2 separate regions of the Homo sapiens genome follow, and region 2 is linked to region 1. The links come from fine-mapping of genetic effects on gene expression. A gene starts in region 1. The other region holds a variant in brackets. All regions are shown on one strand. Distances are between the middles of the regions.

What was found. PIP is the estimated chance that this variant, and not a neighbour inherited with it, causes the effect.
Region 2: its variant is fine-mapped to the expression of COL5A1 in whole blood (TOPMed, PIP 0.92).

Annotation. Positions count from the first base shown.
Region 1 is chr9:134,634,622-134,650,474 of GRCh38, forward strand. It overlaps COL5A1 (collagen type V alpha 1 chain), which reads left to right and starts at 7,182. Exons shown (of 66, transcript NM_000093.5): 1 at 7,182-7,675. The coding sequence starts at 7,567. COL5A1-AS1 (COL5A1 antisense RNA 1) reads right to left here. Exons shown (of 2, transcript NR_138049.1): 2 at 14,764-14,963. LOC124902300 (a long non-coding RNA gene) reads left to right here and starts at 13,433. Exons shown (of 2, transcript XR_007061842.1): 1 at 13,433-13,643; 2 at 13,770-15,585. RefSeq lists enhancers at 8,161-8,867, 10,123-10,707, 12,690-13,489, 14,214-14,713.
Region 2 is chr9:134,450,415-134,466,267 of GRCh38, forward strand. The region is part of intron 1 of LOC105376311 (a long non-coding RNA gene); the gene reads left to right. Among named protein-coding and RNA genes, the nearest start is that of MIR4669, 79 kb to the left of the region's middle. RefSeq lists enhancers at 3,935-4,770, 5,114-6,051, 6,052-6,988, 11,504-12,004. The variant G/A (reference allele first, on the strand shown) is at 7,584.

The DNA of each region.
Region 1 (15,853 bases):
TTCTGCTGGTACCACTGCCTTATGCTCGTGGCGTCCTGGAGCGTCGCTGGGGCAGTTGGTCATGGAAAGAGCTCTGTGCCCAGATGGGGTGGGGCTGTCTCCAATTCCTACACCTCCGAGTTAAGTGGTTTCACCCTCTGAGACTCTGTTTCCCCAGTCGATCATGAAGCTGCCGGAAGCAGGACGGATGGAGCCTTTTCTGAGCCTGTGCTCTGTGCCCGGCACAGTCTGTGTGTTATCTCGGATAACCTCCACAGCATCCTATGCAGGGGTGCACTGCGGTCCCCACTTTCCAGAGGAGAACCTGAGCCAGCGTGGGGAGGCTGCAGCCTCAGGCCCCTTGCTGAGGCAGACTCATATCCAGGACGCCGCTTGCTCCAGATTCTGAGGTCATGCCTGCCCTCACCTTCGTCGGATGGTGGGAAAGCTTCAGTGAGATCCCTAGGTGGGGAATCGTCACAGACACCCTCAAAAGCTGTTTCACCAGGGTGATCTTGTTGACTCCCGGGGAACAGCCCATTGAGTGGGAGGCATCTCTTTCCACCTATGCAGATGGTTCTTTAAAAGATTTAATAGCGGGGACCTTTCCAACTGACATTTCTTTTGGGCTGTAAACTCAACCTTTATCTCTAATATATTCTCCTGGAGGATGACACGCCAATCCAGGCCCAGTTTGGAAATGTGCCTTGGCACACTGTGGCCCGAATTAATTGCGAACTCACTCTATATATCTAAAGTCTGTTTGGTGTTCGTCATGGGCTCTCTCGCCTGGAAATTCCATTATTTTGCAGGGTTTACTTGGCACCTGATGGGATATCCAGGTCCAGTAAAACCAGGCCTTCGTGGACATGACATGGAAACAGAGCTGTGCCGCACAGCGGAGCGGGGCCAGTGAGATGGGAGGGCCAGTGAGATGGGAGGGCCAGGCGCAGCCAAGGGACAGCCAGGCTGTTTCAGCCATCGATGTCACGGCTCCATCCCTTGGTGATTTATGCTGCTCTGTCCCTGGGCTTGAAGGAGGGGCAGCCCCTCAGCTGCTGAGAGCCCTGCTTCCTGGCCCTCCATCAGACCATGATAAAGAGCATGAGCCGCCATGCTTGAGAAGCCGCCATGATGAAAAGCGCCTCCAACCTCCAGCTGCGTGTATATGTTTGATCAGATGCCAGGGCCAGCTGTGTCTGGTCCTGCTTGTGTGGCTTGATAAATTGGGCTGGGGGTCCTGGCACCGTGGTGTCCCGGGATGGGAGCTCTGGGAGGAGAACAGCTCCTCTGCTGGACTCTGGGTTGGGGAAGGCTGAGGGTTGGGGAAGAGGAAGAGGCTTCAGCTTCACAAAGTGGTAGAAGTTCAGGTGCGGGGGAAGGGCTTCAAGTAAACCACTGAGTCAGCGGATTGCATTTTCAATGGAATCATGGGGCCTGGAGTTCACTGGACCACAGCCTGCCTGGGTTCTTCCCAGCTCACTCCTCTCACCCCCTCTCACCCCCTCCCACCCACTCCTACCCCCTCTCACCCTCTCTCACCCCCTCCCACCCCCTCTCACCCACATCTAGATGGAGCACAGGCTGCAGGCTTGGACTGGGGAGACTGGGGTCAGACCCACGGCTGCTTCTCCGGAAGCAGAGGTATACACAGATGTGACTACACAGTGTCCCAAGGCCTGTGCCCCCACCTACCATGCTTGACTGTGTGCCCCAAGCCACACCTGCTTCTGTGCCCACCTGCTCCAGTGCACACCTGCCCCATGCACACCTGCTCCAATACACACCTGCCCCTGTGCACCACTGCTCCCATGCACACCTGCTCCCAGACACATCTGTCCCAAAGACTGACTTATTCACATGCACACCTTCATATCCAGAACAGAATGTGCTCCTAACAGGCAGCATGGGCAGGGGCACCTCACTCACAGAAAGGGGAGGGCAATTTGCTGTGGGGAGGGAAGCAAAGAGAGGAGACTCTGGAGTGGGCTTGGAGCCTTTTGGAGGAGATGCTGCATCTGCACTGGTGTTCTGGGCCCTCCAGCTGGCCCCACTCTCACACCCATGGTGGACAGTGCCACCGAGGAGAGGTTCAGCCTATGTGCTAGAGGGACAAGGAGACAGGGTGGTACACATTCATCAGAAGCCAGGGTCCCCTCTCACTGGCCAGGGTCCCCTCTCACTGGCCAGAGTCCCCTCCCACTGGCCAGGGTCCCCTCTCACTGGCCAGAGTCCCCTCCCACTGGCCAGAATTCCCTCCCACTGGCCAGAGTCCCCTCTCACTGGCCAGGGTCCCCTCTCACTGGCCAGAGTCCCCTCCCACTGGCCAGGGTCCCCTGCCACTGGCCAGAGTCTGCACCCCTCACCCCTGCCCCCGCCTTGGGGTGTGAGAATCCACAATAAGAGAGCACCTAGGTGGGTAAAAGTCTCTACTGTGCCAGAAAACAGAGCCCCTCAATCCTCAGATTTCTGCTAAAGGCCCACGGACTGGGACTGTTTTGCAGGAATCCAGTTTTAGGGGGATGAATTGTGTCCCCCTAAAATTCGTACATTGAAGCTTTGCCTCTCAGAATGTGGCTGTGATTGGAGATGGGGCTTTTAACAAGATAATTAAGTTTAAGTGGGATCATTAGGGTGGGCTCTCATCCAACTGACTGGGGTTCCCGAAAGAAGAGGAGATGAGGACGCAGACACACACAGAGAAATGACCGTGTGAGGGCATGGGGGGATGGTGCCGACTGCAGGCCGAGGAGGGAGGCCTTGGCTGAAACCAGTGCTGCCGTCACCTCAACCTCGGACTTCCAGCATCCAGGACTGTGAGGGAATAAATCCCTGCTGTCTAAGCTGCCCCATCTGTGGCACTCTGCTGTGGCCGCCGAGCTGACTCACACACCCGGGAAGCCTGGTGACCTGGGGCATGGCCCCGGCCCCTCTCTCACCCTCTCCTCTACTCTCCACTTGGCAGACACAGGCTGAAGAAGGCTGCAAAAACAAGGCAATGAAGGACATGCTTTGTCCAAGGGCTTTAAAGTGGCGGCCTTCCCCAAGTAATTTTTCAAAGAGAGTGCTGGCTTGAAAGGGGCTCCCTCCCATCTGCCCCGCTCCAGTACGTAGGGAGAGTCCTGCTGGCTCTGTGGGCACAGCGGTGGCCTCTGGTCTGCTGAGAAGCCACAGCTCACATGGAGCAGTGGTCAAGGCCAATGGGTCAGAAGGTAAACTAGGGCCAGTGGGGGTCTGGGCCCCTGGAACCGGCAGGACATGCGGTCAGCCGCGGGCCGGCCCTCGGACCCGGCGCCTCCTTGGTTTGCTCTGCTGCTGGTGTGCAGGCTGCACGGTGGTTAAGGGCTGCGTTCCGGGCTACTGGGTTTAGCCACACCCTTGCTGTTCAGCCTCCAGCAAATAGTTTCACCTCTCCGAGCCTCAGCTTCCTCCTGCCTCAAAGGGTTGTTGCTCCATTGAATGAGATGATGCAGGTAAGCAGGTGAAGCCCTGGAAGGCGGCAGGGGGCTTGGAGGAGGCAGAAGAGGATGAGTGCCCAGCGGCAGGGAGCAGGGAGGGAGGGGACTGTGGCCAGGCCTCCCTCACCTACCTTCTCATCTGAGCTTCACAGGGACCCCCCAGCGGTCAGTTTCTTCACCGCCCATTCACAGATAACAAACTGAGGCTCAGAGACAGAATCCTCTTGCCCAAGGTCATGTGGCTAGTGGCTGGTGCTGCTGGGATTCTAACGGAAGTCTGTGTGACTCTGGAGTTGGCCTGGTCCCAGGACATCAGCTGAAGGACACAGCTGCAGCCCCAGGTGCCGGATGCAGGTTCAGAGCATTCTCCTTGCGCAGCTAGAGGGAACTCCTCCCCTGCATGGGACAGAGTGGGGCAGCTTCCAGCCCCTCTGCCAGGCCGTGGCTCACCCAGGCCCTCCTGGGCCCACTTCAGCAGTCTCTGGACCATAAATGCTTAGAGGGCAAGCAGATATCTGCCTCCAGGCACTCCAAGAAGACCTTGTTCCTCCACCTCCTCCATGGGTCTAGGAGAAGAAGAAGGGACAATCTGGCTGCCCCTCAAGGCCTTTGTCTTGGGAAGCAGCTGGCCATTTTCCAGCCAGACGTGACTCTGGGAGGCTGGTGTGACCCCTCAGGACTGGTGGTGAACCATCAGGTCCACATGAGAGCAACACCTGATGGTTGCCATGGCCGCTCTGTCCGGACCACAGCTCTGCCGCTCGAAAAATAAATGAGAGGAAACACAGCCTTGGAAGGAGAAGTTGGGCCATCGGACTCCACGTGTAAGGTGCAGGGCACCTGGCCTGCTCCACTCTCTGCTAGGCACTGTGGGAAACACGCAGTGATGGGTGGTGGCGCTCCCGGTGGCCCAGGAGTACACAGGGTACAGGACCTGGTTAGCCTTCTGCGGTGAGTGCCATGAACAGGAGCAGGCAGCCGGGGAGGGCTAGATGGGAAACGATGGATAGCAGAAGACAAGGAAGACACACATGCAAAAAAGGGGCCACCTCTGCATGGGCGTGGGAGTCACTGCTGCATTGCAGGTCAATGTGGAAGGGACCCAGGCACCTTGCTCACCACATACTCCCTAAAGCCTAGAGCGGTGTTGGCAAGGAGTATGCGCGCAATAAGCAGTTTTCCAAGGACTCTGGTTTTGCTCAGTTGTGGGAGGGCATGGAACATGGTGAGTTTGGGACAATCTGCACCAGTTGCTGTTGTCTGAATCTGGGCAGGGTGGTCCTGGCGGCAGGCGTGTGGTCCGGATGCCATGGGGAGGCAGGCAGTGCACACTGGGCTCCAAGCATGGAGACCTGGGTCCAAATCCGGACCCTGTCACGGATGAACTGGGTAAGTCCCCTACCCTCTGTGGCCCCTGATTTCCTCATCTGTGGATGGGAGAGATGCCAGTATTCCCTACCGGTGCATGAGAACTGATGCACGTGTGGGTGAAGAGTGTGAGGCAAAAGCCTTAAGATGTGGCTGATATTCTTAGCTTGGCAACACAGTTCGAATCCTGATTGGTACTGCCGGGCCATTCTGCCATAGTCCCTGGCTGACACATCAGGCCGCCAAGTTTGGGGACTTCTCTCTGAGTTTCCTGGTGGGATAGAAACTCATCTCTCCACCCAACTCAAGGCTCAGATGAGGGTGGAAACTCACATTTGACAGCTTTCCAAGCCACCGCACCACTTGCTCTCCAAGAGAGGATAAAGTGCATCTGTCATGGCTGCTTGAGCTGCAAGACTGAGCCATCTTACCATTGCTGAGAAGTCAACTTTTGGGGGACCTTGGGGTGGTCACTTGAGTGTCAGCTCTTAAGGCGCCAGTTGTGTTAATTCAGGGCAAAGTTTAGATGCTGGCTGTGAGTTACAGGAGGGCTTGCTGACTGGCACGGATGTGCACATGGGACTGTCAGAAAGGAACTCCACTTGTGCTTGGGGAAAAAGAAGCTGGAACCAGAAAGCCTCCACTCTCTTCTGATAACCAGGCCATGGCCTGTGTCAGCACCCCTAGTCTTCAGGGGTGAAGCTGGCCTTGCTGGTAGGGGCGGGGGCACTCCAAGGACCAAGCACAGCTGGGGCTGGCGCGGAGTCTGGGGTTTGATGGAATTTCTCACTCATTGAAGTCCACAGGGAAAGTAAAGGGCCAGTGGCTGCAGGTTAACCAACGCACAGACACGCACACAGGCACACACACAAACACACACATGCACACAACTCACACACATTTTTGCCTGATCACATATGCCTTATACAAGTTGTAAAACAAAATAAAATCAACAAGGAAACAGGTCAGAACTAACATTTGCTTTACTGAATGTATCTCAAGCACCTCCCCACGTCTGTGTGTGAAGAGCTTCTCATTCTTTTCCTGCGAAATATTTGATATCTATGCAAGCGCATGTGGCAGATATGGAGACTAAAAGCCTCATCACCAAGTTAGCAACAGCGACCTATCACCCAGCTCCGGAGCCTGCCATGGCTATCCTGGCAAACCTAACCTCGGACGCCTCTCTCACCTCCTGTTTCCAGAATGGTGAGAATTAAAGAGCATTTGGGGAATTTCACGCCCAGTCTGGAGATGTAACTGGAGAGGGGAGTCCCAGCCCTGTCTGGCATCTCTGGCTAAATTGTTTGTTCAAAGGGAATGGGGATGGCCCAGGGTTTGCAAATCGTTCTTAATTCATTCTGATTCCCTCCTTTTAAAAAACTAGCCCTGCAGCCCTTGGGGAAGGGGTGTGGGTCAGGCTTCAGGAGGCTGTGCAGGGAGGCCAGGCCTGGGGAAGCTGGAGGGAGAGACGCCCACCTACCACCCAGAGACTGGCGGGCCTCCTGCTGGAGGAGACCCCGAGGGGCTTAAAGAAGCCAGGCAGGAGAATCAGGGCCCCAGCTCTTCTCCGAGAGCAGCCGATCAGGAATGCCTTCTCCCTGCGCCAGCTGTCACTCCCAAGGGGATGCCTTCTTTGGTTTCCTTTTTATTGCAGAGGGGCCACCAGGGAGTGGGCAGGAGTGAGGGGTGAGAGCCTGGGGGCCGCAGAGCCAAACTTCGCCTGATTAATAACCCAGATGTTCCCGTCCAAGCACATGGAGGTCCCGGGAGCTCTTGGGAAGTCAGACCCCAGCTCGGTCCCGTGCCAATCTGCAGTTAGGAGGCAGGTCCTCGGTCCGGGTTGACACGTAGGCCACAGTCTTGGGCGCCCTGATCTGGCTGGATGGGAAGTTTAGTCTCCACCCAGAAGAGGAGCTCTGAACTCCTCCACGTTAAAGAAAAAGTTAGGCGGGGTAAACTGCAACTTTCTTTTTAACCCGAAGTGATCAAACCTCGGGGCCCCTCTGCACTGGTTCTTGGAGCATGGCCAGGTGCGGGCACCTGGGGTGGGAACAGTGGGGGGACCAGGGTGGGCCCCTGGGCTCCGAGGCCGCCCCAGGCCCGCCCGCCTACCGGCTCTCAGAGAAAGAACAGGGGGCCGCGCCCGCCCCACGTCCGCTCCGCCCCGGGCCAGCCCCTTCCTCGCTGCGACTCGCCCGCTGTCCCCACCCCCTCGCCCGCGGCGCCCAGTGGGAGGCGGGGGCTGGCCTCGCCGAGCCCAGCGCCGGGCTCTGATTTGCTGCGGGCGTTGGGGATCGACAGCCTCCGCGGCTGCCTTCCAGGAGAGAGGGAGGGAGGAAAAGGGGGAAAAAAGTGCTCCGCGCCGAAGGCGAGGTCCGCACTCTCCGTCCCCGCGGCTGGCGCAGGACCTCACTCGAGCGGAGCGCCCACGGGGAGCGGGTCGCGGGGCGGCGGCGGCGAGGAGGAGGCGAGAAGGAGTTGGAGGAGGAGGAGGAGGAGGCGAGGGCGAGCTAGCCCAGCGGGGTCCCGGCCGCCCCGCGGGCCAAAGTCGAGCCCTCCCGCCCGTGGGCGAGCGCGCCAGCCGCCCCTTCCAGAACAGCCGCCGCCACAAAGAAGAACGGGGGGTGCCGAGGTCCCCATGACCTCCTAAAGTGGTGCGGTCCCTGCTGAGTGCGCTGCCCGGGCCGTGACCCGCGCCCCTGTGCGTCCCCGCGCGCCTCCGAGCGCCCCTGTGCGCCCCGGCCCGCGCCCCGCCGGCATGGACGTCCATACCCGCTGGAAAGCGCGCAGCGCGCTCCGCCCGGGCGCCCCGCTGCTGCCCCCGCTGCTGCTGCTGCTGCTGTGGGCGCCGCCTCCGAGCCGCGCAGGTAAGGGCGCCCCGGGGCGCGGGGCTGCGGGATGGGGCGCGCGCAGCCCGGGCGCCGCTGTCATCCCCGGGCGCCTTCGCCCGCAGAACTTTTCTTCCTTGGCCTGTGGAATGCACGGGCCAAGACCACGAATGCCATTTGCTGGGGGCCCCCCCGAGATGACGACACGCAGACACAATGCCCGCGGGCGCGCCGCCGCCCCCTCCCCAGACGGGCGGGTCGGGTGGGGCTGTCGCGCGAGCCGAGGAAGGACCGAGGGCTGGATCAGCAGGAGGGGTTGTCCACGAGGCGGGCAAACTTTTGTCCCAAAAACCTTCCTTCTCTGTCCCACATCACAGGCGCCCAGCTTGGGCCCTCACAGCCCTACAGCAGAACTTCCTCTGCTCCAAACCGGGCAGGGCCGCCCCCTAGAGTTACAGCCCTTCAAATCCCGGGACTCCTGGGGATGGGGGGAATCCCAGAAGCCTGGGCCCCCAGCACTGAACTTCCCCCAGGCACTGTCACTCTAGGCTGAGCTGGCGCCCTGCTTTCCCCAGGGACAGCGTTTCCTGCAGCCTTGGTCACCTAAGTGTTCGGGGGCACTGGGGACCCCTGCAGGGTGGTAGACAGCCCTGCTCCTAATCCCACCCCCAAACTTCTTGATCCCTGGAAGGCAGCTTTTCCTGGATTCGCTGCTGAGAGATGGGATGCGTGGAGCAAAGCCAGAGATGGGCTTGCAGGCGGGGCTGTGAGTGGTTGGGATGATATGCAGATGTGGGATTCCTTCTGCCAAGGGTCAGCCCTTAGAAGGAGGCTTGCTTCCCGGGGAGGGCGCTTCAAGGCGGGGACTGTCTGCGTCCCTGCCTGGGTTCTCGAGGGTTCAACTCTCCCTGGCGCAGCTTCCTGACGGGGGAGTTTTTCTAGGCATCGCTCTTGGTAGTTAGTGGCGGGGTGGGTTTTCACAGACTCTCGAACATCAGAGCCCCCAGCCCTGGAAGGTCCCCCGAATCCTTATTGACAGGCGGGGAGATGGAGGCTCAGAGCTGTGTGCTGCCAGGTCAGGAGAAGTGGCGGGCAGAGCGATGGGACGGTGGGCTCAGCGAACGTCTGGACCAGCCCGCCGCCTGCCAGCAAGAATGCTTCTCTCTGCTTCACGATTGGAAGACAAGTGGGAAGAATCATTGTCCGTGTTCCGCTTGTCAATTAAAACACTCTTTTCCTTTTTCCCTGGCACGATCAGTGCTTGTTGGGCTAACTGGATGAGCTGGAGTCTGGGTGTGGGGGCTGCCCTGGGGCTCTGGGGGAGGAGCCAGGAGCCTGGCCTGGCTCCCAGGACCTGGGATCTCATCCCTGGGCCGCCACCAACTCTCTCCTGACCCTGGGCTAACTGGGCTTGTGTTTCTCCAGGGGTTAGCTGAAGGTGGGGGACAACAGAGGTCCCCAGAAAAGTGGAGAGGAGAAGGAAGGTGTGGTCAGGGACTGTGCCATTGCCGGGGGACTAGGCCCTGTCTCAGCGCCTCTGGGGACTTTTCCCCAGAAACTCAGGAGGGAGTCCTTCAGGGGAATCGTCACCCTAGACAGCTGGGGCAGGGCACTGCCTGGGGACCATGCACCGGACTGGGCTTGGGGTTCCATTTCCCTCCCTGCCCATCTCCCCACCTCCACACTGTCTTTTTCCCTCTCTGGTTGCCCTCGCTAATCGAAGTGCGGCTCGTTGGAAGTGGGAGTGAGGATGGCCCAGAGCAGCAGGCTATGGAGTTGGACATTTTGCTTTTGTCAGAACAGACTTTTAGAAGCATGTGGAGAGACCACTTTTCTTAGTGAGTTTTGCCAACGTCTCTCCACCTCCCAGGGTGGGACCTATTTGGAAGTCATCCTTCGAGCATGGCCAGAGGGGGCGGCTGTCCACTGGAGATGCAGGCGCTGGGGGGAGGGGGCGGCTGTCCACTGGAGATGCAGGCGTGGCGGGGAGGGGGCGGCTGTCCACTGGAGATGCAGGCGCTGGGGGGAGGGGGCGGCTGTCCACTGGAGATGCAGGCACTGGGGGAAGGGGGCGGCTGTCCACTGGAGATGCAGGCGCTGGGGGGAGGGGGCGGCTGTCCACTGGAGATGCAGGCGCTGGGGGGAGGGGGCGGCTGTCCACTGGAGATGCAGGCGCTGGGGGGAGGGGGCGGCTGTCCACTGGAGATGCAGGCGTGGCGGGGAGGGGGCGGCTGTCCACTGGAGATGCAGGCGCTGGGGGGAGGGGGCGGCTGTCCACTGGAAATGCAGGCGTGGCGGGGAGGGGGCGGCTGTCCACTGGAGAGGCAGGCGCGGGGGGGAGCCACCAGCAAGTGCCTGCTGTCTTCTCCATCTTCGGATCTGCCAGATGTTTTCTGAGGGTTTTCTGAACACAGTTCTTTTGCCTGCTTTCTTTTGGCCAAGTGTGTGAAGGAATGAAAAGTAAGATTGCATTTGGGGCTGCTGAACAGTGTAACGGGGAAGGAGAGTATGGGAAATGAAACATGACCCCAATATTTGGAAATTGAGGTCATCTCCTCTACACGCCATTGGTTGACTCCAGTCACGTGATTGCTTTTTGCAATAATTTGTGGGGAGAGTCGGCCAAGTTTTGTGAGACTTGACAGGTATCAAATGGTTAAATTTCCTCTGACTCAATCAAGTTGGCTGGAAAGACATCCTTTTCCATCCTCTGCCCCCTCCCTCCCTCTCCCCATAAAAGAGCAGTGAGTGGGAGGAGCTCAGAAGCCCCAAGAATTCCCCAAGCCCTCTCCCTGCTGTGGTCCAGATTTGCCGGAGGGGTTGGAGTTTTGGTTGCTACCCAGGGCTGTGCCCACCCAGCAGTGCGGCAGCCCCAGGCAGGGGCGTGCTCCCAGTGCCAGGCTCACAGTGGTTTCTCCAGTGATGTTACTCCTGGGCTGCTCCTGCGGGGCTGGCCAGAGCCTGCTCTTCACCCCGCCCTGCAGATATTTCTGGACTCCCCACCGCCACGCCTCAGCCGAACACAGCTGGTGCTGCCCGTCCCGCCCTGCCTTCTCGCTGCCTGGCCTGTCTGCCTGCCCTGCCTCCTCCCTGGACCGCCCCATCCCACCTCCTGGGAGATAGACCTTGATAGGTGGAGTAGGGGCTGTGCAGAGCAGTGAGCTGCCCCGCTGGAGGGCGAGGATGAGTCCCCAACACTTCCCGAGGGCACCCACATAGGAGCCTGAGCCAAGCTGCATCTGGAACAGTGCAGGACCTGTCCCTGCTCGGTCACGTGACGTGGCTCTGGGAATGGCCTTGGGAGACAATCACACATGGGAATGGAGGGGCTGGCACTTGCCTGGCCTGTGGTGAGCATCAGCTGCACCATCTCACTGCACCCTCACCCGGGCCTGAGAAGGGACAGAGCCTAGGAGTCAGGGGGCAGGGATGCCAGGCAGATGTCTTCCATTCCTGCTGTGGGGCCCTAAGCCAGCAACGGCCCTTCGCCTGGCATGGTCACTCTTTGACTTGTCACAGTTCCCTCTTCTCACTTCCCATCGGTTTATCAGCTCTCCCCGGGGAGAAGGCCAGGGCCCTGAGCTATAGTCCTGGCCTGGGGGCCCAGTCCAAACAGGGTCCTGGGAGCAGAGCCATTCCATTTGGCCAACACAGCTTTTAAGTTCCTTTCTTTCTCCTTCCCCCTCCATCCTTCCCTCCTTCCTTCTTTCCTCCCTCTCTTCCTCCCTCCCTCTCTCCCATCCCCTTCCTTCCTTCCCTTTGTCCCTCCATCCCTTCTCTTTTTACTCCAGTGCCTTCAAGAGGGATGCAGCAGCCACAGTCTCCACCACTTCCCAGGCCTCTCTGCACATCAGCATAACCTGCCTGGACCCTGAAGGCTTTTGCCTTTTCACCTGGGTCGGGCCTATCTTGGGGAGACCGAGGCAAATGGGATGGGACCCCTCGTTTCCTTCCAGGAGCTCACAGTCTGACAGGCAGACCATTGTGAATTTTACTCAGGGCCCTCCATGGGATGTGCTGGGTCTTGCATCCGACAGTCTGGGAGGGTTAATTGCACTGGGGAGAGCTGGGGAGCTTCCTGGAGGAGGTGATGTGAAACTGGCCTTCCCTCCTTCTCTTCTCCTTCCTTTTATTGCAGAAATGACCCTCCTTCGTGGGGTCCTCCTCCACCTCTGGCTTTAATCTTGCTCTCTTCCCTCCTTCTGACAGGACATTCCACACCGTGTCCCAGAGCTCTCCTGGGCGGCTCCCTTGGCTGGAAAGCCCCTCATTCACGGGCTTGGCAGGTGCTCCCAGTATCTGTTTGCCAGGAGAATACAAGTGCCCCTAAGGGAAGTGGCAGATCCTGGCAGCTTCCTTAACCCTTTCTCTGCCCCCGTTCCTCCTGTTTCCCTTTGACGAGCCCTGCTGGCCTGGCACAGTGAGCCCAGTCTGCACAGCTCTGCAGACAGCTCCACAGCTGTGGATTAGGATGTGGGGGCCTCTGGGGGTGATTTTGGGTACCTGTGCTGGGTGACAGGTGGTCGGATGTGGGAGGGGACATTCCTTGGCAATCAGATTACTGAACTCCAGGCCAGCAAGGTCGGTGTGAGGCTGGAGCTGAGTTTCCCTGCCTCTGAGGGGCTGTCGGATGGGCTGGGCGAGGACAAGTCACTGCACCTCAGCTTCCCCTCGTGAACATGGGGAGAACCACATTTCTTGCTTTGAGGCATGGTTGTGAAGATCGATTGAGGCCACACCTGTGAGAAGCTTTGCAGGCTGCCTGACCTGTACTCGGCACTGGCTGTGTGGGGACGTTACCATCGCCCCCATCTTCAGTGGTGGTTTTGCAGGAGGAAAGAGCAGTGTTCCCACAGCCCTCTTTAGCTCCCAGAAGCACAGGCGAGGGAGGTGTGCCTGTGTGGGGCCTGGCCCTGCTGAGACCCCTGGGGCTCTGCTGTTGCCCGCTTAGCCGGTCTCTGCTGCCCCTTTGCCTTCCTTGGCCTCGGTTCTTTGCTTTCCCACGGAACCTCATGGGGTCATTGTCCAGGCCGTGGGGTGTGATGCATGTGAAAAGCTTTAGAAGCCAATTCCAGGGTTTGCACTCATGTGTGCGTTTGTGTGTATGTGTGTCATGTGTGCGTGTGTGTGTGTGTGTGTCAGGCCGTGTGCACGTGTGGACAATGTGTATATCTCCCCGCGATCTGCCTGCACACATGTGTTTGTGGGTATACATGTGTGTTTGAGTGTGCACGCATGCGCATCCTTGCACATGTACCTGCGTTCACATGGGTGTCCCTGGCTGACTCCACGTGCAGGGCCTGGTGTGTTTGAGGAGCTCGTGGCAGGGCGACGTTTCTCTCCTTACCGTGACCCGGCCCCAGCTGGACGGGAGAGGAGGAGATGGCACGTGGAACCTGCCGGTTGAGCGTGAGGCTGTGGGTTCTGCCGCAGGGCAAGCCGGGTCCAGCTGGATCCGACAATTTCATGTCTTTTTAAACTCCCGGGAGGGCGATGTTACATTATGGCTCCCGCTTCTCCTCTATTTACATTCTCCCATATAATTGACTCGTCTGCTCTCTCTCAGTGCTTTGCCAAGTGTCGGTTTTAAAGTTTCTGGCCTGGCTGGTGGATGTGCCTCGATCCTGCAGGCGGAGCCCACAGCGGCCCTTGTGGTGGTTACTACTGAGTGTCAATTTGATTGGATTGAAGGATACAAGTATTAATCCTGCGTGTGTCTATGAGAGTGTTGCCAAAGGAGATTAACATTTGAATCAGTGGGCTGGGGAAGGCAGACCCACCGTTAATCGGGAGGGCACAATCTAATCAGCCGCTAGCAGGTGTAGAGCAGGCAGAAAAACATGAAGAGACGAGACTGGCCCAGCCTCCCAGCCTACATCTTTCTCCTGTGCTGGACGCTTCCTGCCCTCGAACATCGGACTCCAAGTTCTTCAGGTTTGGGACTCGGACTTGCTCTCCTTGCTGCTCAGCTTGCAGACAGCCTATTGTGGTGGGACCTTGTGATTGTGTAAGTCAGTACTTAATAAACTCCTATATATATATATATAATATATATATATATATTTCTATTATTTCTATTCCTATTAGTTCTGTCCCTCTAAGGGAACCCTGACTAATACAGCTCTGCTCATAGGCAGGACTGCAGGACTGCAGCCACCAGGACATGGCATAGGGACCAGGGTGGCCTGCTGGCAAAGGACAGGCAGCCGGCAAGACTCCTGGATTCCTATCCTGGCTCCAGTGTCTACCAGCAGTGCATTTTCCCACCCTGTGCCTCACTTTCCCCATCTGTAAGAAGGGGGTGGTGACTGTAACTACAGTAGGGTTTTAGTGATGTCTAATGTATTACTCATATAAAGCACAGAGTAAGACCCCATTACTGCCCTTGCCACCAGGGGCCCCAGTGCAGCAGGAGGCTGTGAGGTGGTTTGGGGCCCTCTACTCGCTGGCCTGTGCGTGCTCCCTTGCCATCCTGTGTGGTGTCACACTGCTGCTTCCCTCACTGGGTACGCAGGAGAAAAGGTAAGGCAGTAAGCACCAGTGGTCAGTTCAGCGGATCGCTCGCTGCTCGCTGCCTCTGAGGCTCTGAGCCTGAGCCAGGAAGGTGCATCCTTGGGCAGTCGCGGGCCAGGCCAAGTTCAGCCCGCAGAGTGGCCCTCCCCTGCCTCCTCTGGCCACTTGCTCTTTACAAGGAACGGAGGTCCAGGAGGTGGATGGACCTGTGCACCTCCCAGCTGCAGGCCTCTGTTCTGTCTCTGTGATGTGATGGCGGTGAGTGGTGGCTGATCACTGAAAGGAGGTGTTCCAGGCAGGGGTGGGTGAAGTTGGTGCGGGCGGGGTGTGGGGGGGGCTTTGCCATCTCAGATGTTGTTTTTGTGCCAGCCCAGCCCCAGGCCACTGGAGAGAAGACCGTGGAATGAATGAATTGGTGGCTGGATGCTCAGTGGAGGGGTGCGGGTCACTTTGAGTTATCCATGTCAGATAGTCCGAGCCGTCACACCCTCAGCTTCCTATCAGCAGAGGAGTTTTTCTGGAGGAATCTCAAACTAGGTAATAACCTCATATTAGCAGTAAATGTCACCATCCTTTGATGACTCAGACCTAAGAAATGGAACCACAGCCTGACCCACTTTTCTCAAAATTTAATTACTCAGAGCTCTGGGGACATGGGCTCAGCCTATTTGCCGAGATGTCTCTGCCCATGAAATGGAAGCTTCCTTTATTTTCTGTTTCCTAGACCCGTGTTCTTGTAGGGAAATTAGCTCTTCTGTCCTTTTCTTCCTTGCCAGGACCTCGGCAATAGGGTTTCTGGTGGCCTCTTTTTTTTCTGTAAATAAATGCCACAAAATGACATAAAAACAGTGTGGTGATTCCTCAAGGATCTAGAACCAGAAATACCATTTGACCTGGTGATCCCATTACTGGGTATATACCCAAAGGATTATAAATCATCCTACTATAAAGAGAAATGCACACGTATGTTTATTGCGGCACTGTTCACAATAGCAAAGACTTGCAACCAACCCAAATGCCCATCAATGATAGATTGGATAAAGAAAATATGGCACATATACATCATGGAATACTATGCAGCCATAAAAAAAGGATAGTTCATGTCCTTTGCAGGGACATGGATGAAGCTGGAAATCATCATTCTCAGCAAACTAACACAAGAACAGAAAACCACAAACACCACATGTTCTCACTCATAAGTGGGAGTTGAACAATGAGAACACACGGACACAGGGAGGGGAACATCATGCACCAGGGCCTGTTGGGGGGTGGGGGGCTAGGGGAGGGAGAGCATTAGGAGAAATACCTAATGTAGATGACAGGTTAATGGGTGCAGCAAACCACCATGGCATGTGTATACCTGTGTAACAAACCTGTGCGTTCTGTACATGTATCCCAGAACTTAAAGTATAATAAAAAAAATTTTTTTAAATGTGTGTATGTAGCAGGAGTGACTTAAGTTGAAAAACTCTGACCCTTGCATTGGGAAACAGTGATCTCCCAGTGAGAACACATGAGCATCGTAACCGTCTTCCATTGGAAGCGACCGTCTTCCATTCTGCTGGCGGGTGGCCTGGGGGACCAGCACTCTTTCCCGTGTGTGGGTACAGAGGGAACAGATGGGGTCCATATGCAAAGACATTGGGTGTGTCAGCAGGTTTGCTTGGCAGCATTTATGGACCCCTAACATGAGACGGACCTGTG
Region 2 (15,853 bases), 180 kb before region 1:
AGACTGCAGGAAGCCTCAGGAGGGTGCCTTCTGAGGTCAAAGGAAGACAGAGGGGAGAAAGTGGCATGCCTGGGGCCTGCTTGTGGTGCCTGGCCTTGAGGCTGGTGGATGCCTGCATCTGGAGCTGGAGCCCTTGGTCCCAGATAAGCATGTGAGGAATCAAGTCATGGGGAAGGCAGTGAGTGTGGGAGGTGGTGGTGGGGTTGCTGATTTGGACAGCATGGCAGGTGGGGCCTCCACGGGAAGCCGACCTGTCCTAGTCCACTTGGGCTGGGTGGCTCACAGACAGCAGCTTATTGCTCATGGTCCTGGAGGCTGGAAGTCCAAGATCAAGGCACCTGCGGATTTGGTATCTGGCAAGGGCCCATTGCTGGTTCAGAGCTGGCTGCTTCTGTCTGCATCCTCACATGGCAGAAGTGAGCAAGGCAGTTCTCAGAGACTTCTTTTATAAGGGTGCTCATCCCACTCATGAGGGCAGAGCCTCCCAGAGGTCCCATCTCCCAACATCATCATCTTGGAGGTTAGGATTTCAATGCATGACTTTTGTTGAGACACAGATATTCTGTCTATAGCACAACTACACAGCAATACAGGGAAAGGCATCCCAGGCTGGGGGAACAGCATATACGAAGGCTCAGAGGCAGGAGAGAACTGAGGTGTGCAAAGAGTAACACAGAGACACATGGGGAGAGAGGCTGGTGATGAGGCGGGGACCATTGGGGCTGAGGGTTCTCCATGTTGCCCAGGCAGACATGTGCTGGAATTGCTGGATGTATCGCCCAGACATCCAGCAATTCCAGTGCTTCTTCTCAATCCCCCTTCGAATGCCTCTTTCACCTTTCACAAACGTTTCCTCCTGCTCAGGAGGCTTGCCTGGCCTGTGTCTTTGCTCCCTCCTTCCCTTCCCTCTCTCCCTCCATCCCTTCCTCTGCCTTATAGACTCCTCCCTGAGAAGAAGGCCAGCTCCCAGTCTTCCCAGTCTTCCCCTCCCTCAGGCCCAATCCAGCCTGAGCACGGTCTGGATTTAGTCTTTAGGCTTGGTCAAGAGTGTGTTTGCAAACCTCTTCACTCCTTGCTGGCTAGAGCTTCCCATCTTCTTAACCAGGTCCCCTGAGACTCCAAGGCAGGCACCCACTGGGGCTGATCACATGAATAAATTGGGTGTAGTTCCAAGAGGTGGGAACTGTGGTTTTGTAAATTTCACAAGTTGTCTGCATTTCACAAGTGCACAGGTGTACCATGGTGAATCAGAGGCTCCAAGGCAAGGCTCATGGTGTTTAGCCCTGTGCATACACCACCTCATCTCCCTACCCATCTATTCACCCACCCACCCATCCATCCATCCACCTACCCATCTACCTACCCACCCACCAATCCATTCATCCATCCATCCATCCATCTACCCGCTTACCAATTTATCCATCCATCCATCTATTCATCCATCCATCCATCTACCCATCTATTCACCCATCCACCCATCCATTCACCCATCCATCCATCTACCCACCCACCAATCCATCCATCCATCCATCCATCCATCCATCCATCCATCCATCCATGCATCCATCCATCCGCTTACCAATCCATCCATCCATCCATCCATCCATCCATCCATCCATCCACATCCACCTACCCACCCACCAATCCATCCATCCATCCATCCATCCATCCATCCATCCATCCATCCACATACCCTCATCCACCCATCCACCCATTCACTCACCCAGTCATCCATCCATCCATCCATCCATCCATCCACACACCCATCCATCCACCCAACCACCCATTCACTCACCCAGTCATCCATCCATCCATTCATCCATCCATCCACCCACCCACCCAGTCACCCATCTGTCTACTTATCCATTCACCCAGTCACCTATCTATCCACCCAGCCAACCCACCCATCTATTCATCCATCCATCCACCCTCCCATCCATCCACTCATCCACCCACCCACCCAGAATTCATCCATCCACCTATTCATTCAGCAAATACAGACTGGAAATTGCATGGATTAGGTCCTGTACTTGGCTCCAGGAGAGAGCAGAGTTTGCAGAGTCTGTTCAACAGAAATCCAATGTGAGCCATATATGTAATTAATTTAAAATTTCCTAGTAGCCACACTAAAACCAGGTGAAATAAGTGTAATATTTTATTTAACCCGATACATAAACAATATTATAATTTCCACATGCAATCAATATAACAATTATTGAGATATTTTACATTCATATTTTGGTGGCAAGTCTTTGAGATTTGGTGTTTATCTTAGCCTTATAGCACATCTCAATTTGTACAGGTCACATTTCAGGCTCTCGAAACCACATGTGGCAAGTGGCTTGTGCATTGGACAGTGCAGGTCTAGAATATTCTCATGGTGTTGCATGTGGGCAGCAAATGTGGGCTGATCTGTGCCATGAGGAGGCCATAATCAAGGTGCGATGGGAATATGGAGGAGAGGCAACCATGGGTAGAGGAGGCTGAATGGCTTCCCAGAGGAGGCAGCACTGGAGCAGGGCACTGACGGATGAACAGGAGTTCTTCAGGTGCGAAATAGGGAAAAGAAAATCTCCCAATTCCCTGGTGCCCCAAGTAGGGCTCATGAAGGTCCAGGTCAGCTTGAAGAAACCAAGGGCCTTTAATGACCTCCCCACCAGGTGCTCCTTATAGACCCATGGTTCAAATCATCTTATTCCTGCCCCCTGGGCCAGTGTTGACGTTTCCCCATCTTATAGTGACGAACACTGGGGCCTGGAGGTCCAGCTGCTTACAGCCACGGTTTTCAGAGCATCTACCATGAGCTAGAGCTCCACCCCAGATGGTGGGGTTGGAAGTACAAGGAGAAAAGGAGGTGTGGAATAAGGCTCCTTGCTCTGAGCCCGTAAGCTCCCTCTGGGTGGGGGCTCTGTGGGTTGGTGCTGGGAGACTCGCTGTCCCGCTGACCTGCCTTCTCCCATAGATGGTGGCCCTTGAGACCACATGGAACCAATTTCCCAATTAAGCTAATTGGAAGAATCATGGCATGCCTTTCTGGTTATCGGCCTGGGAGGGCAGAATGGTGCCTGCGTGCCGAAGAGTCCATAAACGTTGAGCTATGCTGGCCAGACCATTGGACGGTATCACCTGGTCCAACCACTGTTTATGAGGACTTCCCGAGATCACTGAGGCTTTTAGGCTACTGTGCGTGTGCCTGTGAACTTCCAGGCCCTGTACCTGCATGTTATAGGAGGAAGTGCTGGGGTGGGGGGCTGTGGAGGGGCTCCTGAAACTTGTCTATAACCAGGCATGGCCATCTGGCTCTCACTTGGGTGGACTTTCTTAGGTCTAACTGCAATCTCTCTTGCTGCTGACTCAACATGCCCCCTCCCCCTCCCGAGTGGTTGGGGCCCCAGGTGAGCACTGGCCGGCGGGGCTGCTCACGATTGCTATCCAAGACCAGCCTGGAAAGCTGCCATTTTCATTAAAACCCTTAGACATGAATCTTCCAAAATGTTTCTATGAAGAATCCAAAGGAACCCGTGTCAGGGACATCCTTAGCTGGATGGGCAGCCTGGGAGCGGCGGCATGGGAGCAGCAGCATGGGAGCGGCCGGCCTGGGACAAGCTCCGTGTGACCACAGGCTCATCCTTTCTGCTCACTCGAGGTCTCGGCTTTCCCTTTTGTGGAAAGAGGGAGTTGTTCTGGAATCCACACCCTATGGTCCGTGTGATTTGGTGGGGGCAGCAAGGAGGCCTCCCCCTCCCCTAACACTGCCTCCCTGCTGCCCGGGATCACAGCCGCTGGGCTCCGTCCTGAGGGTTTAGCACTGCCCTCCCCTTTCTCAGATGCTTGCTGCACATTTCAGGGTGGAAAGGGCCCGACCTCATTCTTTCTGGGAGTCCGAAGAGGTTTGAGCAGGGCCCAGCACGTGGCCACTGCAAAGAGCGCTTGCTCTCAAAACCCAAGCTCCACCTTAGTTCAAGAGAGACGCCGATACTTCCCAGGAGGCAGCCACCACCAGGCCCCCAGTTCTAGGGCCCCCGTCAAGGCATGGGCCAGGCCCCATTTGTCTCCTCCACTGCTGAAGAGGCGGGGCCAGGGGTGACAGGAGCAAGCTGCATGAGATCAGGGTGGGGTTCTGGCACCATCCCAGGCTGGCTCTGTGACCTGGGCACGTCATAACCCCTCTTCCTGCCTCCATCCCACATCATCTGTAAAATGGAGGTGACGCCAGCTGCCCTGGCTCCCACTGGACTGTAATTTTGTCTGTGGTTTTCTCCGCCTCCTCCCCTCTCCTGCCTCAGTCGGGACTCATTCAAGCTGATCACCTCCCAGTGGGGTGCTGGTGGGTTCTGGTCACTGTGCAGGAAAGGGTTAACTCAGCAGGCCTGAGTTGTCCACACCCTGCACATTCCAAAGAAAGGTCTGGCTCTGGCCTAGCTCCTGGGAGGTGACCTCTGACCTCTAGCCACTTGAAATATACTGCGTGATAAGTGTCTGTGTTTGCTTGGGGGTCTTGGGCCACCCTAGTGACCGCGCTAATGATGTCATTTACAGTGGGACCTTGGGCTGTGCTGTATCGGCTCATCATCCTGGGGATGAGACCAAGGCCAAGCACACGGGCAGTGAGGCATGTCTTTGCGATGGACCCCCAGTAGGAACCCTGAGCCCCGAGGCGTGGCTGGGCCCCCCTGGCTGGTGCACACCATTCTGGGAGAATTGAGCATCGTCTGCCCGACTCTACTGAGAGAAGACCCCTGGGTGCTGGAGTCTGGTCTCCCCTAAACCCTGCCCTCTAGAGATGCCCAGTTTGCTGGTTCGAGGCTATGTCCTTTCACGGCGCTAAACCCTGACCTCGGGTATCGCTGCCTGGCTGAGTTCTGTGAGCCAGTCCAGCACGTCCCTGAGCCTGAGGGTGGTTTGGGGACCCTGAACTGCAGTGTCAGCATTTCCATGGATGGGTTCTGAAGGCAGGTGATGAGGAGGTGTCAGCCTGGGTTGACTACGAACTTTCAAGTCCTATTTCTGAAACAGCCCTTGGAAGGTTCGGGGGCCATTTTACCCCCTCTAGACATTTTGCTGAGCCTTTGCCTGGCCTTGACACCTGTCTCCACCTGTCCACGTTCCCAGCTCTGCCCACCAGGGACTGTGCCTACACCCAGGGATGGCCTAGGTCAGAGAGGGACAGGCTGTGGACTGAGGTCAGGCGTGAGCCAGCCCTGCCTGCCCCCTACAGTTGGGAATCCTCTGGGCGAGGGAGGCAGACAGGACAGAGGGATGCCGCAGGGGAAACCTACAGGTGTCCCCTTTCCCTGGAAATGGCGGACCTCCTTCTCCAGAGACCCTCACGTGCGTCTCTCTCAGGGACGCCTTGGGCCCCCACGGCGTTTGTGCCCAGCTGCCAGGCCTCTGATAAAGCCGCTTCCTCGCCTCGGCCCCCCTTCCCTGCCTGTGCCTCAGGAAACCCTGGGCCTCCTTCAAGGCCCTTCCCCTGTAAGCCCCTCCGTGTCGGGCTCTGCTGTGTCTTCCGAGACCACACCTGTCCTAGGTGCCTGGGTCCAGGTGAGGCGCTCCCTGCTGCCAGCAGTGGACAGAGACTGGTTTTAATTAAAGCTCCCAGCAACCACCCCTATCGCCGTGGAAACAGAGGTTCCGGTGGAGACGTGGCTCCCAGGCCACACGTGTAAGTAGCGCAGCTGGGAGTGGCGCCCGGAGCAGCCCGAACCCAAAGGCTGATCTTGACCGAGGTGCCCTGCTCCTTCCCGGCCGCGGTCTCCACTCGGCCCACTGCTGGGCCAGGGCCGCAGCGGCCGGAAGGGGCTGTCCCTCATGCACCGTGGCCCTCCGGCCTTGTCTCTCAGCGCCCAGACCCCAGGCACAAGGAGGCAGGGGGCTGGGACCTGCCTGGAGCCTGCTGCCCCAGCTGCTGACGTGGTCGCCCCCGCCCACCCTGTAGACGTGGCCGCCCCCACCCTGCCACGTCGCCACTTCCACCCTGCAGGCAGGAAGCTGCACGCTCTCGCTCTCTTTGTGTAACTTTTGGAGGGTTGTAGTTGCAGGAAACATCTGGATGTGGCCCAAGGAACATAATAAAAAAAAAAGGGAGAGCCGCGGGGAGAAGGCAGGGCTGGGGGAGGTTTGCAAAAGCCATCTGATTTCACTTTGCAAAGACAACTGCAATTATGCCTCTGAGGGTTTGCAGTCACTTCACATTCTAGCCATGCGGTGACGTCAGTGGGAAACTATGAAGCTCGCGGACTGCGTGGTGACACACACCCCACGAAACATGGCTCGGGCCAGCTGCCGGCCATGCTCCAGCCCGACAGCCCACCAACAGGGGTCTCTCCCAGAAGGAGGGAAGCTGTAGCTGGGAGAGGGGGTCCCTAACTTTGGACATGCTGGGTTGTCCCCAATCGCCCTCCGAGCTCCAGCTGTGCCTTCCCCTGCTCAGCCTGCATCTACCCCATCTGACCCCACAGGCTCCTGGACAGAAATGGCCCGGCCTTGCCTAGAGCTAAGCTTCCACTCCAAGGCAGAGCTATGGGGGTCCGGGCTGGCAGGGGGGCCATGGCCAGGCCCTCAGGGCTCCCTGCTTTCCAATGGCCCCAGGATCAGCGGTTTCCACAGTGTCCTGTAGCATGCGGCTGGGTGTCTCCATCGTCCCAGCATCCTGTGGGGTGGGCCGAGGGTCTGTGTCCCTCTATGTCCCGTGGGGTGGACCCCGGGTCTGTGTCCCCCTGTGTCCTGTAGGGTATGGCTGGGGTCTGAGTACCTCTGTGTCCTGTTGGGTGGAGCTGGGGTCTGTGTCCCTCTATGTCCTGTGGGGTGGGGCCGTGGTCTGTGTCCCCCTGTGTCCTGTCAGCTGGGGCTGGGGTCTGTGTCCCTCTGTGTCCTGTGTGGTGGGGCCGGGGTCTGTGTCCCCCTGTGTCCTGTCTGGTGGAGCTGGGGTCTGTGTCCCTCTGTGTCCTGTGTGGTGGGGCCAGTGTCTGTGTCCCCCTGTGTCCTGTCGGGTGGAGCCGGGGTCTGTGTCCATCTGTGTCCTGTGTGGTGGGGCCGGGGTCTGTGTCCATCTGTGTCCTGTGGGGTGGGCCGGGGTCTGTGTCCCTCTGGGTCCTGTGGGGTGGGGCCGGGGTCTGTGTCCCCCTGTGTCCTGTGTGGTGGGGCTGGGGTCTGTGTCCCCCTGTGTCCTGTCGGGTGGAGCTGGGGTCTGTGTCCCTCTGTGTCCTGTGGGGTGGGGCCAGTGTCTGTGTCCCCCTGTGTCCTGTGGGGTGGGGCCGGGGTCTGTGTCCCTCTGTGTCCTGTGGGGTGGGGCCGGGGTCTGTGTCTCTCACAGTGTCCCCAGCTTCTGGTCACTATCTCTGTCCCTCCTGCCCTGGGGTCATCCTGAGCTGGGTCCTGCCTGCCCTGAAATCTCAGGAGCTGGGGTGGTTCTCTCTGCTGCTTCTCTGCCCAAGAGTCCAAGGGCTTCCCAGGGACAGTGCTGCACCCTGATGGAGCCCAGGCCTCTGGGCGAAGGACACAGCCTCTCCCAGACCTGCCCCAGACCCCTGAGGCTTTTTAGTGCAAGGGGACCCCCAGGGCAGGAAGGGTTTGCCTGCCAC[G/A]TGGCAAGTACTTCTGCCTTGAGGCCGTCACAGACAGGGTCTCTGGACTGTGGTGTAGTGTCCTGTCATCTCCAGGTGTAGTCTCAGAAACGCCTTGAAATGAAGCCTGAAGGGGAAGCCCAGTTCCATGGTGTGGACGAGCGTGTCTGCCGGAGGCCTCGGAGTCGCATCCACCGGTGTTTATTGACAGCTGACTGGTGCTGTGCCCTGAGACCCAGGCCCTGCCCTCTGGCACTCAGTCTACCAGGGGCCAAGGCCTGCACCCTCCCTCTGGGCTCACCTTGGTCAAGCCTCTGGTGGACTTTTAAGGCCCACGGGGAACCCCCCCACAGACCCCCTTCCCACTCTGCAGGTGGGCCGCTGAGGCCTCTGCAGACGGGCCTGAGCAGCAGGGCCTGTGCTTGTCGAGGCCCCATGGCTCCCGCCATGGCCAGGGTGAGATGCAGAGGGCCACGGAGCCTGCGGTGGGGCCCTGGGGTTTGACACTGGGGCCCTGCCTGGAATGGGGCCTTGGTGTGATGGGAGCTGGGGGTGGGGTGGAGCCTGCCTGGGCCGAGGGGCTGTCTGGTCGGGAGCGATTCTTCAGCAGCAGAGACTTGAGTCATGGCTGGGGCCTCCTGGCCTCTGGGGGGACCTTAAGACATTTTTTCCATGGAAAGTAGCTGCTGGCTCTCTGCTTACCGGGGAGCTCTCTGTCCCCTCCCACTGCCTGCTGAGGGTTTGGTGGGGGCTGCTTCACTTCTTTGCTGGACTTTCCACTGGCCTGGATGGGCCGAGAGCTCCAGGCAGGGACCGGACAGCCAGACTCTGGACCCAGTCCCAGCCTGCAAGTGCCTGTCCTCTGAGCCTGAGTTTTGCCTTCTGCCAGGGTGAGGGCTCTGGGTGAGGCTAGACGCTGAATGGCAAGGACTGGGCTGTGATGGGACGCTGGGCTCCAGGTCTCTGTTAACTCTTTAAGGGAAAGGTGGGGCGGGATATGGAGGGAGTGGCGCGCATCATCCTCCCGGAGCCTGCAGAAATCCAGGCGAAATTGGCACATCTTTTGGGAATTTGCAGGTGCTGCTGAATTTAGGAGAAGCCACCCTGAAAACTTGCTCAGGGGTTGCCCTGGTCTCTGACCCAACAGCTGGTGGGGGAGGCACCCACCTGGCCTGTGTGACCCCCAGCTAGTTCTTCGCTGGGCGACACTGGCCATAAACAGGTCAGTCAGAAGCCTGCCCTGAACCCCTCGAAGGCCTCATCCCTCCCTATGGGAGACCAGGATGGCGGCTCTGGAGCTCAAGGCTGTGCACTGGAGGTGGGCCTGGGCTGTGGGGCAGGATCTGCCGTGGTCAAACGTGGGTCAGTGTCAACTGGGAAAGCAGAAGTCTGCGGCCAAGCTGGGGACCTCCCTTCCCTCTTCTCCCTGCAGCATGTGGCGGGGGCAGGGTGAGGTCAGGGAGAATGGCAGATAGGACAACCTCATGGGTCATGAGTCATGAGGCTGGGTATGGGTGCAGCTAGGAAGGGCCCAAGGTGAATTTTCTCCAAGAGAGCTTTACGAAAGGGACCTGGGGACTCACAGGGGCGGCTTCGTGACCATCCCAACCCCAACCCCTCCTCCAGGAAGCCCGTCTGAGCCAGCCCTGCCAGTCTGAGCTCCTACCTCTGTGGATCCTGCCTGTCGTCCACACCTGACTGCCATGTCCTCTAGGCTTTCAGGGAACACAAATCTTATCTCTTGGGCCTGTCCTGGCTGGGCCTCCCTCCTGCTGGCTCTGTGGCCCTCATCGCTGGAGGCCTCGCCCCTCAAGGCTCTGCCCTGTGTGCACCGTGGGCCTAGCGGGGCTCTCACAGCACTTCACTGGCCCTGGTGGTCATTCGGGGTCAGCCCCTGTGCACCTCTCCCGTTACCCACGGAGGACATTTCCCAGATGCTGGAGGATGCTTGACCTCTAGGCCCCTGTGACCAAAATCGAGCCTGAGTCTGAAGCTGTGGCCTAACTGCGGCCCTTGGGGATGGGGAGGCCCGATGCCACATGCCTCTCTGCCCCTCCCGTGTGCCCTCCATGCAGGCATGAGTTCCTCGGAAGGGACTCCACCACCCACTCCCTAGGATGGAGCGTGATGCTCACTGAATCCTCTGGGGTCCTGTCTCCAGGAGACTTTCTGGGTGACAGATGGGACACTGAGGCCCAGAAAAGGGAAGATGTCAGCTGAGGGTCATGCAGCAGGTTGGGGCAGAGTCCAGACTCAAACCCAGCGCCCTGATTATCAGCCAGGATGAGCTCTGTTCTTGGTATCTGCACTGAGAAGCGTGTGCATGAGAAGGAAACTTCCGGAGGAGGGCTCGGTTAAAGTTGATGATGCCCTCGCTCAGCTGGCCTTTCTGCTGTTGGGGCTCATTCTTCTGGAATGTTCCAGCACCTACCCCTCCCACGATACACTCGGTTTCCAACACTCCAGTATGCGCTTCTGCCGATGGCTCTCCTTCACGTGCAAGCATCGGGCCCTCCTTCCTGGAGGCTGTGCATGGAGCTGCTTTTCTTTCTAATGGTGCTCCTGGGCCCTGCTGGACGCCACTTTGCTGGGCATTTTGCTTGTTTTCCCTGTGGGGCTGTCACCAGCTGGTGCTGTCATGAACACTCCTGTCCAGCATTCGGCAGGTGCTCTCCTGGATGGAGTTCAGAAGCGACGTTGCTGGGTCCAAGGGGCATGCCCCTTTTACATTCTAAAATTCTATGGGACCTCAGTGGGGCTTTGGTTCTCTGAAGAGGAATTGTGAAGGGCGCCCTGGGGCCTGTTGGAAGCCTTCACCCAGCAGGAGTCACCTATGTGGGGAGCTGTGTTGGGGTCTCTGCCCCCTTCTGGAAGGTGTCAAGCACTTTTGCCAAACAAACAACTGCCTCAGGCCCTCCCTGGAGAAGCTGAGACAATAGGTGACCAGGGCATGACGGGTGGTTGCAGGAGACGGGACCACAGGCTCTGGAGCTCCTTAGCTGGACAGAGCAGCTCCCTGAGCTCAGAGAAGCCCTGTCCTGCTCGTTAGAGGGCTGTTCAGCCTAGTCCTGGATGGGTGTGGCTGTCAGCAGGTAGGTGACTTTTATGAGACAGTCTGCCCACACTTCATTGCCTATCCCTCTGCCTGTGGGGAGGCGGGGTGCTGTGGGCTGGGCAGGGCGGTAAAGGAAGGCCTGTGGCTCCATGGTTGGGGGCCTTCTCCCCCTCCCTCTGCTGGTGCTGTCTCCTGACCTGGCTGCTCTGAGCCTCTCTAGAGGGCTGTGGACCTGCTACTTCATCCTTTGTGTACATCATCCTGTCACAGGGTCCTCGGAGTTCCTGAGAGGACAGCAAGACCCCACTCTTACTCCAAGAGCCCCACATTGGGAGGGGGCTCCAGCCATGTGCCCATGGGGGGCTGAATGGGAAAAGACACATGAGTGAAAGGTGCCACACATGCCCGAGGTTTGCATCCTGGTGAAAATCTTCCACCTTCTTTCTTTAGGCCAAGAAGGGCTGTGCAGGGTCTGCCTCTTAGTTCTCTGTTACTATGTAACAAACCACCCCACAACTTAGTGGCTTAAAATAGCAGTAATCATTCATCATCACTCACAGTTTCTGTGGATCAGGACTTTGGAAATGGCTTAGTCAATGGGTGGTTCTGCCTTGGGGTTTCCCAAGAGGCTGCGGCCAGATGTTGGCCAGAGCTGCGTCATCTGAATGTCGGCCAGGGCTGGAGGAGCCACTTCCAAGGTGGCACACCACGAGGCTGGCACGCTGCTTGCCTCCACAGTGCTGCTTGAGCATCCTCTCAACATGGAGGCTGGCTTCCCCCAGTGCAAGTGATCCAGCAGGCCAAGGCAGAAGCTGCCACGCCATTAAGGAGCCAGACTTGAGAGTCATGCATTGTTATGTCCACAGTGTTCTTGTGGTCACCTGACCCCTCAGATTGCCAGCTGTGGCCCAGCCAGGTCCCAATGTGGCCCTTCTCCGAGATGGCTCTTGCAGCACTGCCCTATGGCCCATTTTCTCACATGCCTGGCTCCTCTCAACGGGACCCCTGGGGCTGATTTGCAGGAGGAGTTTGGTCAGTGCTTGAGTTGAACTGAGCCCCCAGGCCTCCCAGCTTGCCTTCAACTCAGGGTTACGGAGCTCATTGAACTCTGAAGGGCCTGCGTGGGCCATTTTGTAGCTTGGGCGGAGTGTACAGTGAGAAGGACATGCGTTCTAATTCCCACTGTGTGGCCTCGCACTCATCACAAAGCTCCCCGCCCTTGGTTTCCTCATCTGTAAAATGAGAGTATTGATGGAACTTTCTCCTGGAGGTTGAAGCACAGCAGCTGGGCGGGGCTGAAGCTGTGGCAATGGGGGCTGTCATAACCACACCAACAGCCGGCTGTGTGGCCTATCAGTGCCCTGACCCCCACCATGGGAGAGGTGTGCCGGCCATGCTGGCTGTGGGAGGAGCTGGAGAGGACCGAGAGAGAGGACAGAGGTGGGGGAGGGCACACACCTCCCAACTGCAGGCCGTGGTCAGTGGCTGTGACAGGAAAATCCGGGAGGTGGACCCATTATCATGAGGCTCAGGCCACGCAATCTGCTTGGCTGTGGAGTGAAGCCAGTGCAGAGATGTGGGGGTGGGAGAGCATGGGGTGGCGTCCGCTCGGAGGTAGGAGGGTAGGGCGAGGGCTTCAGCCCCACCTGGGACTCCTGCCAGCACCTCGTGCCCCAGGCTTCGTGGTTGGGGGGCACACGGGAGTCCTTGTGGGCTGGTTGGTTTCTGATGCGTTTTCTGTCTCTTTGTCGCGGCTGAACTCTGCCTCCTCCTCTTATGGACATGTCAGTTATAGAGCCCCTTGGTGCCTTTTTTTTCTGCCTCAAGACAGAGGACAGCTTGAAGAGCAAAGGTGACAATTGTGCTGGAAGAAGGGAAAACATAATCCTTTACAACTACTCAACCATAAAAGCCCAGACAGGCAGGAGGTTTGCACTGTGGGTGAAACGGGCTGCTGGTGTGGTGGGATGGGGGCCTCTGGTCAGCTGGGCCACCTGGCATCAGTCTGTGGGTGGGTTGCCCGGCCCTGCCCCACCTCTGGAAGATTCTACATCTGTGTAGGTTGCAGGTCTAGAGTCTGTCCCCAGCGTCTCCACGGTAATGGTTTTCATTCCCTGTCACTCAAAGCTCCTTTTAAGTAGAAAAGAATAAAAAGTTTGAAAAGGAGAAAGGAGGATTCCCACTTTAGGTCCATTTGGCCCCTGACCTCGGCTTTAGAGGGCGCCGGTGCTCGGAGGTCTCTGCTGGCTACGAAGAAGTGGGGTTGGGGGGCTGCCTCTGCCTCCTACCTGTCCCCCGGCCACCTTCCTATGAGGCCATCAATGCCCTGGAAGCCTGCAGCTGCTGCAGTGTCCCTGGTCTGCCCACTTCTTCCCAGGTTCCCTCTGAGATCTGCCCTTCCCCCCACAGCGGGCTGCCAGTCTGACCCAGTCACTCCTCAGCTGGAAACCCTCCAGGTGAAGCACAGAGTTGGGGCCTAAAGCCCGCCTTCCAGCCCTGGGCAAGCCGGGCCACTCCTCTGTCCCTGGATGCCCGCCTCAGCAGGGCCGCCTCCCCTTTGGGTGTTTTGTCCCCAGAGTTTCTAATTCAAACCTTTCCTGACTCCCTTCCACCTGGTCCTCTCTTCCTCATCCCTCAGAGCAGGGCTGAGACCCCAGAGACCCTGGCTGGGTCGCGGGCCCCTCTGCACGCCCCCCATCCCCCTGCCCCCTTGGAGCTGCAATGCAGGTGTCCACTTTCCTCACTGGGCTGTGACGTCCCTGAGGGCCCCGGCCTCCCCTCCCTGTTCCCAGGGCTTGGCCCAGTGTAGATGTCCAGTGGGCATCAGGGTGGACGCCATGGTGACAGCTTAGATGCATTTTTGGAGATTGTGATGGTGGTGTTGGGGCCAGGGAGGAGGAACCCCCGTGAGCACACAAGCTGACAGCCCCATGGCCACAGAAAATACACAAGGCCCTTTTCCTCAGTTGTGGCCCCAATTCCAGAGTCAACACCAATAGGTGGGCTCCTTCCTGGGCCTTGGGGAAGCCAGTCTGGGACCTAGGTGGCCAGTTAGTTCTGGGTTTGCAGCCTCGGCTCCTGGAGACCCCGCTGTAGGCAGAGCTCCTGTTCTGTGCTGGAAGTTTGAGTCCTTTGTGGAGGACACAGTGGGGGAGATGGAGGATGGTTTATGATGCTCTGTGCCCCTCCTGGGCAAGGGGATGCCAGGGCTGGTGAGCACATGGGGTAGGAGCTGAGGCATTGTGGGGGTCCTGGCCATGTCTCTCACTTGTGAGGACCTGACACTCACCGGGGCCAGCTCTTGTGGATGACATCGGTGTCATGAGCTCTGATGGGACATCATGGGGCTTCCTGGATAGGAAGGGAGTCCTGCCGGCCTCTTGGGGGTAGAGCCGGCAGCCTCTGCCTCTCCTGGAGGCCCCGGTGTCATGCCTCAGCTCTTCCCCACACCTCTGCGCTGCTCACCCAGCCGCCCCCTCCCATTAGTGCCCACTCTGCACCACACGCGCCTCTGCCCGGCTCACCCAGCCGCCCCCCCATTAGTGCCCACTCTGCACCACACGCGCCTCTGCCCCGCTCACCCAGCCTCCCCCCCATTAGTGCCCACTCTGCACCACACGCGCCTCTGCCCCGCTCACCCAGCCTCCCCCCCATTAGTGCCCACTCTGCACCACACGCGCCTCTGCCCGGCTCACCCAGCCTCCCCCCCATTAGTGCCCACTCTGCACCACACGCACCTCTGCCCCGCTCACCCAGCCGCCCCCTCATTAGTGCCCACTCTGCACCACACGCGCCTCTGCCCCGCTCACCCAGCCTCCCCCCCATTAGTGCCCACTCTGCGCCACACGCGCCTCTGCCCCGCTCACCCAGCCGCCCCCTCATTAGTGCCCACTCTGCACCACACGCGCCTCTGCCCCGCTCACCCAGCCGCCCCCTCATTAGTGCCCACTCTGCACCACACGCGCCTCTGCCCGGCTCACCCAGCCTCCCCCCCATTAGTGCCCACTCTGCACCACACGCGCCTCTGCCCCGCTCACCCAGCCTCCCCCCCATTAGTGCCCACTCTGCACCACACGCGCCTCTGCCCGGCTCACCCAGCCGCCCCCCCATTAGTGCCCACTCTGCACCACACGCGCCTCTGCCCCGCTCACCCAGCCTCCCCCCCATTAGTGCCCACTCTGCACCACACGCGCCTCTGCCCCGCTCACCCAGCCTCCCCCCCATTAGTGCCCACTCTGCACCACACGCGCCTCTGCCCGGCTCACCCAGCCGCCCCCCCATTAGTGCCCACTCTGCACCACACGCGCCTCTGCCCCGCTCACCCAGCCTCCCCCCCATTAGTGCCCACTCTGCACCACACGCGCCTCTGCCCCGCTCACCCAGCCTCCCCCCCATTAGTGCCCACTCTGCACCACACGCGCCTCTGCCCGGCTCACCCAGCCGCCCCCCCATTAGTGCCCACTCTGCACCACACGCGCCTCTGCCCCGCTCACCCAGCCTCCCCCCCATTAGTGCCCACTCTGCACCACACGCGCCTCTGCCCGGCTCACCCAGCCGCCCCCCCATTAGTGCCCACTCTGCACCACACGCGCCTCTGCCCCGCTCACCCAGCCTCCCCCCCATTAGTGCCCACTCTGCACCACACGCGCCTCTGCCCCGCTCACCCAGCCTCCCCCCCATTAGTGCCCACTCTGCACCACACGCGCCTCTGCCCGGCTCACCCAGCCGCCCCCCCATTAGTGCCCACTCTGCACCACACGCACCTCTGCCCCGCTCACCCAGCCGCCCCCTCATTAGTGCCCACTCTGCGCCACACGCGCCTCTGCCCGGCTCACCCAGCCTCCCCCCCATTAGTGCCCACTCTGCGCCACACGCGCCTCTGCCCCGCTCACCCAGCCGCCCCCTCATTAGTGCCCACTCTGCACCACACGCGCCTCTGCCCCGCTCACCCAGCCGCCCCCTCATTAGTGCCCACTCTGCGCCACACGCGCCTCTGCCCGGCTCACCCAGCCTCCCCCCCATTAGTGCCCACTCTGCACCACACGCGCCTCTGCCCCGCTCACCCAGCCTCCCCCCCATTAGTGCCCACTCTGCACCACACGCGCCTCTGCCCGGCTCACCCAGCCGCCCCCCCATTAGTGCCCACTCTGCACCACACGCGCCTCTGCCCGGCTCACCCAGCCTCCCCCCCATTAGTGCCCACTCTGCACCACACGCGCCTCTGCCCCGCTCACCC